Regions from separate parts of the Homo sapiens genome. Here region 2 is linked to region 1. The links come from fine-mapping of genetic effects on gene expression. Tissue or cell type: whole blood. Region 1 holds a variant in brackets; the other region holds the start of a gene. All regions are shown on one strand. Distances are from middle to middle.

Evidence for each region. PIP is the estimated chance that this variant, and not a neighbour inherited with it, causes the effect.
Region 2: HGD starts here. The variant in region 1 is fine-mapped to the expression of HGD in whole blood (INTERVAL, PIP above 0.99).

The regions. Positions count from the first base shown.
Region 1 is chr3:120,566,726-120,574,831 of GRCh38, reverse strand. No RefSeq gene overlaps it. Among named protein-coding and RNA genes, the nearest start is that of NDUFB4, 26 kb to the left of the region's middle. RefSeq lists a cis regulatory region at 2,494-2,714. The variant A/C (reference allele first, on the strand shown) is at 3,448.
Region 2 is chr3:120,677,590-120,685,695 of GRCh38, reverse strand. It overlaps HGD (homogentisate 1,2-dioxygenase), which reads left to right and starts at 3,457. Exons shown (of 14, transcript NM_000187.4): 1 at 3,457-3,599. The coding sequence starts at 3,585. RABL3 (RAB, member of RAS oncogene family like 3) reads left to right here. Exons shown (of 8, transcript NM_173825.5): 8 at 1-758. RefSeq lists an enhancer at 7,739-8,106.

The DNA of each region.
Region 1 (8,106 bases):
TGGCTTGTAGAGTTTCTGCTGAGAGATCCACTGTTAGTCTGATGGGCTTCCCTTTGTGGGTAACCTGACCTTTCTCTCTGGCTGCCCTTAACATTTTTTCCTTCATTTCAACTTTGGTGAATCTGACAATTATGTGTCTTGGAGTTGCTCTTCTCGAGGAGTATCTTTGTGGCGTTCTCTGTATTTCCTGAATCTGAATGTTGGCCTGCCTTGCTAGATTGGGGAAGTTCTCCTGGATAATATCCTGCAGAGTGTTTTCCAACTTGTTTCCATTCTCCCCATCACTTTCAGGTACACCAATCAGACGTAGATTTGGTCTTTTCACATAATCCCATATTTCTTGTAGGCTTTGTTCATTTCTTTTTATTCTTTTTTCTCTAAACTTCCCTTCTCGCTTCATTTCATTCATTTCAGCTTCCATCACTGATACCCTTTCTTCCAGTTGATCGCGTCGGCTCCTGAGGCTTCTGCATTCTTCACGTAGTTCTCGAGCCTTGGCTTTCAGCTCCATCAGCTCCTTTAAGCACTTCTCTGTATTGGTTATTCTCGTTATACATTGGTCTAAATTTTTTTCAAAGTTTTTAACTTCTTTGCCTTTGGTTTGAATTTCCTCCTGTAGCTCAGAGTAGTTTGATCATCTGAAGCCTTCTTCTCTCAACTTGTCAAAGTCATTCTCCATCCAGCTGTGTTCCGTTGCTGGTGAGGAGTTGCATTCCTTTGGAGGAGGAGAGGCACTCTGCTTTTTAGAGTTTCCAGTTTTTCTGCTCTGTTTTTTCCCCATCTTTGTGGTTTTTATCTACTTTTGGTCTTTGATGATGGTGATGTACAGATGGGTTTTTGGTGTGGATGTCCTTTCTGTTTGTTAGTTTTCCTTCTAACACACAGGACCCTCAGCTGCAGCTCTGTTGGAGTTTGCTAGAGGTCCACTCCAGACCCTGGTTGCCTGGGTAACAGCAGCGGTGGCTGCAGAACAGCGGATTTTCATGAACCGCGAATGCTGCTGTCTGATCGTTCCTCTGGAAGTTTTGTCTCAGAGGAGTACCCAGCCGTGTGAGGTGTCAGTCTGCCCCTACTGGGGGGTCCCTCCCAGTTACACTGCTCGGGGGTCAGGGGTCAGGGACCCACTTGAGGAGGCAGTCTGCCCATTCTCAGATCTCCAGCTGTGTGCTGGGAGAACCACTGCTTTCTTCAAAGCTGTCAGACAGGGACATTTAAGTCTGAGGAGGTTACTGCTGTCTTTTTGTTTGTCTGTGCCCTGCCCCCAGAGGTGGAGCCTACAGAGGCAGGCAGGCCTCCTTGAGCTGTGGTGGGCTCCACCCAGTTGGAGCTTCCCGGCTGCTTTGTTTACCTAAGCAAGCCTGGGCAATGGCGGCCGCCCCTTCCCCAGCCTCGCTGCCACCTTGCAGTTTGATCTCAGACTGCTGTGCCAGCAATCAGTGAGACTCTGTGGGCGTAGGACCCTCCGAGCCATGTGCGGGATATAATCTCCTGGTGTGCCGTTTTTTAAGCCCGTTGGAAAAGCACAGTATTCGGGTGGGAGTGACCCGATTTTCCAGGTGCCGTCTGTCACCCCTTTCTTTGACTAGGAAAGGGAACTCCCTGACCCCTTGTGCTTCCCAAGTGAGGCAATGCCTCACCCTGCTTCGGCTTGTGCACGGTGTGCTGCACCCACTGTCCCGCGCCCACTGTCTGGCACTCCCTTGTGAGATGAACACGGTACCTCAGATGGAAATGCAGAAATCACCCGTCTTCTGCGTCGCTCATGCTGGGAGCTATGGACCGGAGCTGTTCCTATTCGGCCATCTTGACTGCCCTTATCCTATATGTATTCTATATTCTGCTTTTTCAGTTAAATTTTTTAAATAAACAGTTTTCCATAATCTTTATTATGGATAATAACATCCATAAACTATGGACATGTAATACTCCAACAGTAGGAAATAATTATAATTTACTTAGTTATCTCCTTTGCTTGACTTTAAGGTTGGTTTTTTTTTTTTTTTTGAGACAGCATCTCCCTCTGTCACCCAGGCTGGAGTCCAGTGGTGCAATCTTGGGTCACTGCAACCTCTGCCTCCTGGGTTCAAGTGACTCTCCTGCCTCAGCCTCCCAAGTAGCTGGGATTACAGGCACCCGTCACCACACCCGTCTAATTTTTATATTTTTAGTAGAGACGGGGTTTTGCCATGTTGGTCAGGCTTGTCTTGAACTCCTCACCTCAGGTGATCCACCCGCCTTGACCTCCCAAAGCGCTGGGATTACAGGCATGAGCCGCCGGCCCCAGCCTTAAGATTGGTTTTCTAAAAAGCATCAGTAAGTACTTAGATAAGGAAACACCACTTTTTAAAGCATTTTATGTTTGCTTATGGAATTATATGCTTTTTTACAGTTCCATTTATCTTTGCTTTTCACCCAGTTGCTCTTCTAGGTGTTGTGCCCACCTCCACCCTTCCTGTCAAACCCTGCCAATGCCTCAAGGCTTTGGAGGAAACGGACACAATGCTTTCCTGACAGTTCTCACTTAGTCTATGAACTCTATCACCCTATTGTCCCTGCCCAAGGAGGCATGCTGTTGATTTTTGTTGGTTTAAGCTTGTCCTCAGCAGAAGCAGGCTGATTCCCAGAAAGTCAATTCTGCTGAAGCCAGTTTGTGAATGACCACTTCTTGGAATGGCAAGGTGACCTAAGGTCAACCACAGCAAACTAGACTGAAGGCTGTGGAATATACCAGACTTTGGAGTCAGATACATGGAACGTCAAACCTGGGCCCTTCTCCCAATGCCCCTGGAATTGATTACTCTATGGTCTATAGGCAGAAAACCTGACCTCTCCAGCCTGAGTTCCTTCATCTTTGAAATGGGTGCCTAGAGAGCGTTTTGGAGATAAAATGACAGCATGCACACAAAGGCCCTGATGTGGGACCATCGTGGTAAGGCATGATGGAGGGTCATGAGATGCCTTCTTATGCTCTGGAAAATGGTGGAAGGAATCACATGGTTGGCAAAAACATATGAAATTCTACATCTGAATCTTGGTTTCTTCTCTCTTTTAAAATCCAGCTCCTCACAAGTCTATTTTTTGAAAGAACCAGCCTCCTTTTCTTCTAAATATTCTAAATATATGAAATCCAACCAAAGTTTCAAAACACACTTTTGTGGTTGTTCTTTCACAGGTGTTAAAGACAATTGGATAAGATATCCTGCCAAGAGCATCTTAAAAATACCAGGGTAACTTCTTTTTTTTTTTGTTATGGAAACTTCCCACACACAAAAGTAGAGGAAATGGTATAATGGACCCACTGTATTCATTCTCCAGCTTTTATCATTTTAAATATTTTTCCATGTTGTTTTATCCATCCCCCTAGATATACCCTTCATTTTTCTTTTTGCTGGATTATTTGAAAGCAGTCCCTCACAGTGTTTTATATTATCCATTAAATACTTTGGC[A/C]TGTATTTCTAACAGTTAAGGAGGTTTTTTTCTACATAACCACAATGCTATTATCACACGTAACAAAAGTATCAATAATCTCAGGAGCATTTTAAAAATAGTGTTCTGGAAAAAGCAAGCCAAATAAGTGAGTAATAGAGAATTTCAAGCCCTATGGTAAGAGGTTTGGGAAGATGCTTTTGGCAAAGGGGGCACTTTCATTTTTGCAAATGACATCACAGAGCCAGATGTCACTTTCTCCTACATATCCAAAATTGGATTTACTTTCTTACCCCTGAAATGTATTCTCTAGTTCAGTGTAAGGCATCAGTATCCACCCAGGAGCTTAAGCCAGAGACTCAGAATTCTTGTAGAGTCTTTTCTCTCCCTCCTTTCTCTCTTACCCCTCCATTTAACCAGTTTTTTAAAATCGTGATAACATTTAACACGAGATCTACCTTCTTAACAAAATATTAAGTGTACAATACATTATTGTTGACTATAGGTACAAGGTTGTACAACAGCTCCCCAGAGCTTATTTATTTTGCTTGACTGAGACACAATGCTCATTGTTAGTGATTCCCCATTTCCTCTTCTTCCCAGCCCTGGCTACCACCATTCTATGATTCTATTAATTTGAATCATAGATACTTCATCTTAGATATTTCATATAAGTGGAGTCATGCAATATTTGCCTTTCAGTGACTGGCTTATTTCACTTAGTGTAATGTCCTTAAGGTTCATCTGTATTGTTACACATTGCCAAATTTCCTTTTTAAGGCTGAATAATATTCCGTTGTATGTATGTACCACATTTTCTTTTTATCCATTAATCTGTTGATGGACATTTAAGTTGTTTTCACATCTTGGCTATTGTGAATAGTGCTGCAGTGAACATGGGTATACTAATATCATTTTGGGATCCTAATTTCAATTCTTTTGGATAAATATCCAGAAGTGGGATTGCTGGATCATATGGTAGTTCTATTTTTAATTTTCTTAGGAACTTCACACTGTTTTCCATAGTGGCTGCACCATTTTGCATTCCTACCAACAGCATATGAGGGTTCCAATTTCCTCCACATCCTCACCACCACTTGTTATCTTTATATATATAACAACCATCCTAGCAGGTGTGAGGTGGTATCTCATTACGGTTTTGATTTGCGTTTTTCTGATGATTGGTGATGTTGAACATTTTCTTATACCTGCTGGCTATTTGTATGTCTTCTTTGGAGAAATGTCTATTCCAGTCCTTAGCCTATTTTTAAAATTAGGGGTTAGTTTTTTTTTAATTACTGCTATTAAATGTAGGAGTTTCTTATTTTGAAGTTCTAAATCTCAGAGTGAATATTTCTCATAGCAACCCCCTCTTCTCCATTCCTACTTCTGTTCCCTTTGTCTAGTGCACATTATCCATCTCGGCACAAAGTACTGAATGGTGTTTTTTTTTCTTTTTTAAATGAGGCTTTTATCATGTTGGCCGGGCTGGTTTTCAACTCGTGGCCTCAAGTGATCCACCCACCTCAGCCTTCTAAAGTGCTGGGATTACAGGAATGAGCCACCACACCGGCTTCTGAATGGTCTTTATCTGGCTTCCTCTGGAAACGAAACCTGAAACATGGATTCTACTATAAATAGTTCATTTGAGAGGTGATCTCAGGAATCCCTGGGAGCTGATTCAGGGAGCAGGACAGGGAAGTGAAAGAAGCCAATAAAGGATGTGTTACTAAGCACTGCCGAGCTCCATGCCACTGAGAAACTCCACTGGAGCTCCACCTCACTGAGAAACTCTGAGACACAGAGTAGAATACGACTTAAGAGTTATCCCAACCAACAGGCAAGGAAGCTGGGGTGTTTACCCATCAACTCTCCTGTTCCTCATTGTTTGAGGGCTGATCTCAGGGACATCAACCCCCCAGCACATCTGGCCTGCACTCCTGCACTGTGTATGGGCTATGCATGCTGCCAAGCCAGAGCACAGAGGGTCACAGGCCTTGGGGGTGTGGGGTGCATACTAATTGGACGTGGGCGGGGCACTGACAGCACCGCTGCATTGCCTCCCTTCTCCCTTTCCCGACAGAGGCCTGGGATAACTTCCCGAGGTGCAAATCTGATTATGACACTCCTCTAGTCAATAAAAGCATATGTGGATGATGCTAAAGACCTACCTTGCTTATTTCACCTGATGCAGGTGACTGGAGTGGTGCCAAGCCATCTGACCCTGGGCACCTTTGGCATACCTTCTGCAGGTGGTCAAAGCTTGGACTGGATTTTCAGTAACGTGAATTAAATGGATAGATAGCTTTATTCATATATTTATAATTAAAATCTGTTTATTTGCAGAACAGGTTGGGAAGGGAAGAGATAAATGATTGCCTGTGGTTTGGGGCCCACTGGTGCAGCCCATCTCCTCTCAACAGCTTTGCTGACCCCTTCTCGACAGTGCAGAGCCTCTCCCCTGTGTTTCTGTCACTGCACCAAAGCCACTCGTGGCAGCACCTTGTTCTTCTTTATGCAGTCACATTATCTGGGAATCTCAATGTGATTTGCAAGCTTACATAACTTCCCAAATGAGTCAGCATGCTCATCAAGAAGGCAGCATGGTGTCGTGGAAAGAACAAGGCATTTGGTGCCAGATAGAACAAGTTCAATTCCTGCATCTGCCACTTCCTAACTGTGTGTCTACACAAGTTATTCTACCTCCCCCAGCCTGTTTCTTCCTCTAACAAATGGAGATGAGAATATCTACCTAGGAGGGTTATTATAAGGATGAAGGGAGGTAAGGAACACTCAGAGTGTGATCAGTGTTTGCTTCTCCCATCCTATATCCTGATTTACACATCTAGCAGCAAATTCTTGAACCTTACTGACATGTAGTGAGTAGAAAATGCTGATTTGTCTTTGTCTGCTTTTAGCACCAGTTAATTTTTGATGAAAGTTTAAATCATGTATTTGTAAAGGAAAAATTGGTCTTGCTCTACTCTGGGCAAAGCAGGCACAGTGCGTGTGAAATAAATCAGCACCAGAAAGGTCTGTGGTGCTCTAGGTAGGGCTGGGCAGGCACAGCCTGGCTCAGGCCTGGCCGGACTGCAGTGGCAGCCAAAGATCACTAGCTTTCAGAGGAAACTTTGGGAGCATGCAGTAAGACAGACAGCCTGAAAAACAAAATATCCAAGAGAGGATGTGGGATCCAATCCGAATAGCTGCTTACCACAGTGGGGAGCGGTTAGGAATGGCATGGTAGAATGCCTTTTGCCAGACAAAGCAGCAGCATACGAATGAGGATGCTGCTGTGCTGGTCAGGGCTGGGGATAGTTCTGGAACTGTTTTTCCTAAGCGGTTAAAGCAAATGCAAGCTTAAAAAAAAAATAAAATCCCTGATCAGCAAATAAGTACTGCTACAAATGTTCTTCCCTGCTGGTCACAACACTATTAGGGCAGGAGTAGCAGACAAGCTCATTTCCAGGATCTTTACAGCCAGCATAATACATAGCTAGCAGTCAGCTGGGGGCAGCAGAGAGAATATTTATAATTTAGAGATGATTGGTTTGCATGTCCGTGGAGCAAAGAGGTAGCTAAAAAAGTAAAGCAAGAGCCGATCTTTAAACTCAGACACCCCAGAATGTTAGAGCTGGAAAAGATCTTTCAGATCATCTAACTGTTCTGGTGATTTTTATATACTAACAACAGCAGAACTTTTCTTTTAAATAAAATCTTATGCAGACTCTCCCCTTTAAAACAAATAAAAGGAGAGCTGCTCTGAGTAGGGGAGGGAGGGAGACAAGGGGGCAGTGTGGTTCTGGGACGGCAGCCTCTGAGCCTTCACTGTAGGTCTCCAGCAGTAGCCCAGAAATACGTCATGGAAATCCTGAGGCCCCACTGACCACAGCTTAGAAACCCCTCATCCAGTCTTAGGCTCACAGAGGGCAGGTGACTGGTCTAGGGTTACTGAGCAGAATTGGGACTAGAGCGCAAACCTCTTGATTTTAAGTTCCTTGCTCTCTGCTAAAAACCATCTCTCCTTCAGAAAAAAAAAAGTATCTGTAAAGATAAAGTTACCTCGTGAAATAGCTTATTAAAGTAAATGAGAAAGCCAGAGGCATCTGAGTGTAAACACTGGCTTTGAAAAGGATCCAATTTTATCTTCTTCTCTGCTGGACCCAAGGGCAGCTTCTTACTACATTTATTTTTAAGGCTTTTAGCGTAACAGTCACAAAATCCAAGGAGATTTACTAAATTAACGGTCACTTAAGCCAGGACGAGTCTAACCAGTTTGTACCTGTTAGAAAACAGAAACTTAAAATAATAGCTTAGTGTTAGAAAAAAAATTATTTTTACTATATTGGCACAATAAGAAAGGAAGGTGAAATGCACGGCAGATGAAGGGGCCAAACCAGAGCTCTCAGGCGCTGGAGCACGAAGCATTTCAGACTCTTGCCTCCGTTTATCGTTTGTGAGAACTCAGACAAGTCACAACGTCTCTGGACCTCAGTGTTTTCAATCTATAAAATGATTAAATCATTAAGGCTATTAAAGGTCAGTATGCAACAGAACTCTGACATAGAACTTCCCAGTGAGCAGGGTCAGCTGGTGCTGTGCCTAATTAACATGCAGCAGAAGTCTCTGTGTCCAAGGCCAAGGGCCTAGTAGTGCAATTAATACAGAAGAGAAAGGAGC
Region 2 (8,106 bases), 110 kb before region 1:
AGCGCATCTTTGACTGCCTCAACCTGATCTCACCTTAATGAACTGATCCACTCCTCCCCACTCAAAGCTACATATGCCAAATTAAACATGAGATGATTGTCATGTCTTCTGTTGGCAAAACAAGTATTTGTCTTTCATGTATTGCTATCATTTTTATTACTGCCACTGTTTTTCCCCTGGGTTCTGTTTTTAATCCAAATATATTTATTTCTAACCAGTGCCTTGCCATCTTACACACAGCCCCCTCTCTAGTACTGTGTTTTCTCAGCTGGCTAATCACTAAGCTTTACCGAGGTCATCAATAACTAATGACAAAGAATGGAACCCCTAAACTCCAACCAAGGTGTAAAACCTCGCTCAGTACCATCAAGTATATCAGGTAATCTCTCCGTTCCATCTTTTTCTCGGAGACATCTGTCCTGGAGTCCTCTGATGCCTAACTCCGTTTTGGAGTGATTACTCTGTAGACCTGTCACACCCTGCTTCACATTACCTTGTAGCAATTCCTGGATGTAATGTTTTCCACTTTCTATCCAACTCTTACTCTATGGGACTTGGCTCAGACATAGTCTTCTCTGGGAAGCCCTCCCTGGCTCTGCTCGTCTGGGCTACGTGCCCACTAGTGCTTCCCCTAGATCCCTGGGCTCTTTCCTGTCAGAGCACTTACACTATGTTGTGATGGTTTTCAAAAATTGTTAAATAAATGAATGTATAATTACATTAATTAAAATGGAAAGCCATTAGACATAGAATCAGAACTTATCTGTAGCTGTGTAAGTTATTTATTCTCCAATCCCAGCAGGACATGATGGCTTATGCCTGTAATTCCAATACTTTGGGAGGCTGAGGCCAGAGGATGGCTTATGCCTGGGAGTTAAAGGCTGCAGTGAGCTGTGATGATGCCACTGCACTCCAGCTTGGATGACACAGCAAGACTCTGTCTCTAAAAAAAAACATTAAGTCAGGTGCAGGAGTTCACGTCTGTAATCCCAGCACTTTGGGAGGCTGAAGTGGGAGGATTGCTTGAGCCTAGGAGTTCAAGTTCAGCCTGGGCAACATGACGAGACCTCATCTCTACTAAAAAATTTTTAAAGTAGCCGGGTGTGGTGGTGTGTGCCTGTAGTCCCAGCTACTCAGGAGGCTGAGATGGGAGGATCGCTTTAGCCCAGGAGGTTGAGGCTTCAGTGAGCCATTTTTGTGCCACTGCACTCCAGCCTGGATGACAGAGAACCTGTCTCAAAAAAAAAATTAAATAATAAAATAATATTTTAATATCCCCTGTGTGTATTCTCTCCTTTTAGAAGGAATCCCTAAAGTTTAGTGAAAGATGTATTCAACTTTAAATATTTTCAAGCCCCTCAAAGTAATTTTAATCCAGTCAAGGAACTGTTAACACTTTCTTACCCCTTCAGAAGTCTCTCATACCTTAGGAAAGAACTGAAACACTTCTTAAATCTGCCTTCACAACTGGTTCAATGGAAGTAACATAGAAAGTTTGTTGAAAAATAAGGCAGTAAAGATTTCCCTTTGTCTTTTATTAGCTCCCATTTGTTTATCTAATGACCAACTGCTAACTTCCAAGATCAATAGAGATTGAAGGCCCAAGGTACTCATAAACTTAGATACACAGGAGATATTTTCTTCGAATTCAGTTTCAGAGTCTGCATGTTATAGGAATAGTGAAAACTTAGCCTCAATAAAGCTAGGGCCTCCACCTACCTTCCTCCTAGGTTTGCATATGAATTCCAGAATAGTTTATATAATGCCACAATGCCATCTGTCTATGCTGACATATGCTGAGGTTTCCTATCAGCTGCCCGGTCCGTAGGCATCAGTCCACATGGTTTGCTACCAGCATGTTTCCTATCAACATGTCCCCTTTGGTCTGGCCCAGTCTGTGCTAGCACCTCATACACAGGCAATAATTCTGCTGCTACTGCAGTATGCTGGAGCCTGGGGACCCTTGGAGGTTGTTTAAGCCCATTTATCTAAAGCAGAGGGTCTCAAACTAGCAGCCTGTGGCCACTTCAAATATGCACATGTTTTTCAACCTGCATGATTATATCAGTTATTTATCACTGCTTAACAAACCACCCCAAAATTTAGTAGTGTGAAATACACCATTCTATTTGTTCCCAATTCTGTGGCTCAGCAGTTCGGGCCAGATTTAACTGGTGGTTCTTCTGCTGGTCTTGCCTGGGATCACACATGTTCTGCAGTCACCTGGCAGCCAGACTGCCTCATTCACATGTCTGGCAGTTCCTGTGGGGCTTGCAGGGCTGTTGCCTGGACCTCTGGAGGCCAGCCCAGCTTCTCTGCACTGTGGTCTCAGGCTGCAAGAATGGGCCCTGTCCTAAGGCACAGGCATGTTTCAAACTCTGTGTCATGTTTGCTACTAGCCAAAGAAAAAGACCCTACCTCTTGATGGGAGGAACAGCAAAGTCACATTCAAAGGGGCACACATACAAGGATAGGAGGAATTGGAGCATTTTTTGCCATCTACCACAGGGTGGTTTCTCTGTCTCTCTCACTCTAATTACCAATGGTTAAAAATTGGAGCTTCATCTTATCTTGAAAAATCAGCTAGCCTACTTTATTCACTTACACTTCCTCCCTCATCTGTTGGCATTTGAGTTGTGATAATGCCTAATTTACAAGATTGTTTTTGTGAAGTTAGATATGGAAAAATCTGACAAAAGCAGAAACTCAATATATGTTTTCTCCTTTCTGAACACCACTAGTCATGAAGCTGCTACCTGCCAATGACCAAGGAGAGCGGCCAAGATGAAGAACAAGGGAGTCATAGAGGAGGTGGCTGGAGAATAATCCCTTGGTCTGTTTTAGAAGTATAGAGGCATTAGGAAACAAAACTCTTAAAGAATTTATAAGAAAACTAAACGTACTTTAAGAAATTAAAAGGAGCAGTAGGAAACATATCAGTTTGCTCTAAGTGAAATATCTCAGGCTCTGAATGGTTCACCCAAGAACCTGAGCTCATTCCTGGGAGGCACCTGCAGAAAACTGGTTCTGGTCCTGGTCCCTGTCTTCAGGTGGCTGTGTGTAAACATCTTACCCCAGTGTACACATCTGCAGCTGGTAAATGCCTGGGGGTTTTCTCACTGCTCTCCAGGAGACTCAGCACTGCCCTGTTCCTTCCTAGCCTGAGTCAGGACTGAGCAGAGAATCCTCCACCACACACAGCAGGCACTATCTGCCACAGTTCCTTTCCCCGATAGCTTCAAATTCTCTGCCTTTTGAAATAAGCCTACTTTTAACTGGAATAAATAATTGGTCAATCTCTACCTCAGGTGAAGAGGAACCAAGCCTCTGGAAACACTTAGGAACAAACTGTAAAAACCAAAGGCAATTGTGTAACCGGTTAAATAAGCTTGCTGGACTTTGTCCCTGTGTATGAGTTAGACAATTCTTTCAGCTAGTTTGAGTGACGCACTGACCAGTGAAGCGCAGTGAAGCAGTGGGAACCGGAATATCCAAAGAGTGGTTTGAAGGAGAAAGAAGCATTGTGGCTTTATATCCTCTGGGCCTGGGTTTCCTGAAGTCACCACACATAGAGGAGAGAGAAAATGGCTGAGTTAAAGGTAAGAAACCATCTGACAAGTTTGCTATGGCTTCTTCAGCCAAAATTTATGGAAGTTTCTGAGAACTTCAGGGTATCAGAGTTGGAAAAGACTTAGAGAGGCCCTGGTTCAAACCCCTGTGTTCAGAGGCTTCCCTGTGGTGTCTGTGGGCACAGCTGGAGCTGAAGAACAAGGGAAAGGTGATAAAGGAAAGAAATGAAGCTCTTATTGGTCATCCCTTGCCTTTGTTCATTTCAATTATTGTCTTGGAAATCTGTAGACATCCTAAGAGCTCCCCTCCACTACGGACATGCACGTTTCTCTCTATGTCTTTTTCCCAACCCCTGCTCTGACACCTTCCCATTGCTGCAGCCTCATGGACCACTTCCGGTGACCAGTTAGATATGCTTGATCTATTTAGTTAATTAAGGCTCTGAATCAGCCCTTGGCCAGAAGAAGCACCTCCTCTAGGAAATCATTCCTTCTTTTTAGTAATACGCAATTGAAAAGTATGTGTGGGTTATGTGCTGTTAGGTGCTAAGCATTTTAGCTATGAATTAACTCATAATCCTCAAAATAAATCTGGGGTATAGAGAGAGGTTCTTGTTTCAATTAGAAAAGTAATGCTTGGAGAGACTATGATTTGCCCAAGGTCACTGCCAATAGATGACTTGATTAGAAGCAGGGTATGTTTGAATGCGAAGTCCAGGCTCAAAAAGGGGCCTTAGTGGCTCCTACTAGACTGGTATCTTAAGGCAAGGAAAACAGAATATGTCCCTAATATCTAAAACCATGCCTAGTGCCCAGGCCAGGCTTGAATCAATGCTCAACGCATGCATGTGTAACTGAACAGAACTGCCCAGAACCTTGGCTCAGGCCAAGTAGGCCAGACCACCCCACAACAGACATCTTCCCTGAATGCAGGGTTTGAGAAGTGCCCTAATGCCCTCTAACTGATGCTGAGTTTGAAGAATCCATCAGTTAAGGGGAGGTGTTTCTGAGTTTGAAGAATCAAACACCTTCCTAATTGGTAGGAATCCTGAAAACACTCCACACCGGAGTAAAAGACTTTGGTTTTTTATCTTTATGCCTGACTAAAAGTTAACTCTCATTCTTTCATTCAGCAAATATTTTGTGCTAGTGCATGACACTGCAGATTAATATCGTAGATGAACTGAGTCTGGGCTAGGTAGAGTCAAAAAAAAATTTCCTAAAGGAGCCTGTACCTAAACTGAGTCTTCAGAGAGAAGTTGGAACTGGCAAAGTGAGGAAGGACGGGGTCTGGAGGGAAGAGTGAGTGCAAAGGCACAGCACATACAGAATGCCTGCATGCTCTAGAATCCAAAACTGTGTCAGCCAAATTTGAGTTGATGGAGGGACAGCCAAACTGAGATACCCAGGCGGTGGTTGGATTTATGGATCTGGATTTCAGGGGAGTGGGCAGGGCTAGGGGAATAGAACTGAGGGTCATGATGTCAGTGGTAGGAGTTGAAGTCTTGGAAGAAAGAGTAGATAGAAACTTTGTTTTCTGATGAACATTCTATGAGGAAGTTCAGCAGAGGTTGGAAACATCTTTACCATTTATAAATAAATTTTATGTAAAATCCTATCCTGCTGTCATGTTTAAGCAACTTATTATGCACAGCACCAGGACATCAATGTAAATTGCATGCCAGTCTTTGCTCTCAGTTTCAAAGGCATTCTTCCCTGCCTGCTGTCTAATCTTTACAAAGAAAGGTTAACTCCAGAGGTCAGGAATCTGAACACAGAAAACCAGATTGCATCATATTCATTCTAATCAATAAACATTATATAATTTTTAAAACTGTTTCTCATCTTTTATTTCTTCATTTTAATGAATATGTCAACACAAAGCCGTAAATGAAATCACATTTACACAAAAGTACAACTGGGGTAAGAAAATTCAAAAGATAAAGTAATAAAATTAAATTTAAAATGAAATACCCTATGTATTTGAGTAAGTTGCTTAGCTTCTCCCAACCTTGGTTTCCTCATTTCTAAAACGAAGAACTTGCTTAATATTCAGGCTCTGGGCCCCACCACCAAATCCTTGATTCACTGGCTCTGGGTCTGTATGTAACAAGCTTCTGGAGTGATTCTAATGATTAGCCAGAGACAGGACCTACTATTCTACGTAACTGATTTCCTCTTGCTGCTGTAAAAAATTACCACAAATTTATTGGCTTAAAACAACACAAATGTATTATCTTGAAGTTGTGGAGGTCAGAAGTCTGAAATCGGTTTCACTGGGCTAAAGTCGAGGTGTCAGTGTGGCTGTTTCTTCTGGAGACTCTATGAGAGATTGTGTTTTCCTGCCTTTTCCATGGATTCTGTTTCCTCTTCTAGAGGCTACCCACATTCCTTGGTTTGTAGCCTCTTCCTCGATCTTCAAAAAAATGTATCTCTGCTTTTGTAATCACGTCACATTTTCTCCTCTTATAAGTCAAATCTCCCTTTGCCTCCCTCTTATAATGACACTTGTGATTACATTTAGGATACACCCAAATAATTAGGATATCTCCCCATCCCAAGATCCTTAATTATATATGCAAAAGTCTGTTTGGCTAGAAAAGATAATACTCACAGGTTTCAGGGGTTAAGCCATACATATCTTTCAGAGTGAGCCATTAGCCATTATTCAGCCTACTGCGATAATGTGCAAGTTCCCTTTACAATCTATGTTCTATGTTCCCATCAAGGTTAATTAGAAATATTAGACTCTTTTTCCACAGAAAAAAAAAATGTAGCAGTAGTTTCATCTCTACCCTGACTTCTCTCTCTTTCCTTCATGCCCAGTAAGAGGAAGTGAGGTGCACCATCTGTTCATCTCATCAGGTGTTACCTAGAATCAGAGTCAGGAGAAAGCACCTCATAAAACTACTCTGACAAGTAAACCATATCCTGGGGACCAGGTGAGAATTAAAAAGCTGTATACTCATAAGCTGCCAAAGAGCTGATGGTACTGAAGTCACATGGAGCTCAGGAATTTATTCTTGCATTTAGAAAGTATGCATATAATTCTCTCGAAAAGAAATGAAATCATATTTTTCTGTCGGATCAAATTATTCAGAAATCCGAACTGTAGAAAACATACAAACACACTTGCTTAATGTTAGCTTTTTAATCTTATTTTTGTACACAGTATACTTTTACATAGGCACTGAACCAGCTGGAAATGAATGCTTGGATTTTCGCAGCTGATAAAAGCAGAGTTCAGATTCTGTCCTTGAGCTCAATGTCTGGAGAAAGCAGCTGTGAATACTGCTTCCTTAATTCAGATGCCTTTGGCCGTGAGGGGCATGGCATTTTAAAGCTGCAATAAACTCTGTACTTTTTCTCTCAGGGGATTAGAAAAACCAATTGATTTGATAGTGACTCAGCAGTTTTCACCTTCCTCTTTAGCCAATGCCCTGCAGCTAAGATTGAGAAACGGATTCAGAACTCACACCTCTTGGTGCTTGGTGGCTCCCTTCCAAACCATCAGCTGTTCTTTCTACTTTCTTTCCTATTTTTTAAAGCACAGTCTGAATCAAGTGCTTCAGAACCATTTATACTAACTCGTGTTCCAAACACATAACCCTGAACCCTCTTCTAAGGCCACCAGTTACAAAGAATGGGGAAGGTTAATGAGTAACTCCACCAGTGCCTGCCAGAAAGCTCAGCTGTACTCCAGCCTTCCTTCCTCTCTTGCAGAGAGAAACAATGCGGCAGTTGAACAAAGCGAAGGCACTGTAATGCCCAGTGGCTTCAGTCACAGGCTGGTCTAAAATTCCATTTCACAGAATTGAAGATAATTTGGGGTTATTACCAATTCTCAGCAGCTCAAATTCAATCCCGTTGATGGTGAGCATGGGGTTCATTTTGAGAGTAGAAAATTGGATGCAGTGGAGAATCAGAATGTTGGATGGTCTCTGCCATTTCCCCAAAGATATCATCCTAACTGCATGCTGCTGCTTTTAACAAATCAGTATACAACTTAGTATTTTTTGTGTTGACAAATTTTCAAATATACAAAATATTGAGTCTGAAGGCAAAAAGAATAATTTTTCACTTCCATTGCTTCCTAGGTCATAACATTCACATCTGATATTTCTTCCAAATACAGACTGTTGTTGGCCTGATCATCACTCACACATCCAGGCTTGTTACATCTCCACGCCACTGAGTATCAGGGAACCTGCCCCAATATTCACGTAGGTTCTTTTCTATTTTCCCTAAGCGTCGGCCAACTTTAGAAATAAAGGGACAGAGTACAAAAGAGAGAAATTTTAAAGCCGGGCATCCGGGGGAGGCATCACATTTCGGTAGGTTCCGTGATGCCCCACAAGCCACAAAAACCAGCAAGTTTGTATTAGGGATTTTCAAATGGGGAGGCAGTGTGCAAATAGGTGTGGGTCACAGACATCAAGTACTTTACAAGGTAATAGAATATCACAAGGCAAGTGGAGGCAGGGTGAGATCACAGGACCACAGGACCGAGGCGAAATTAAAATTGCTAATGAAGTTT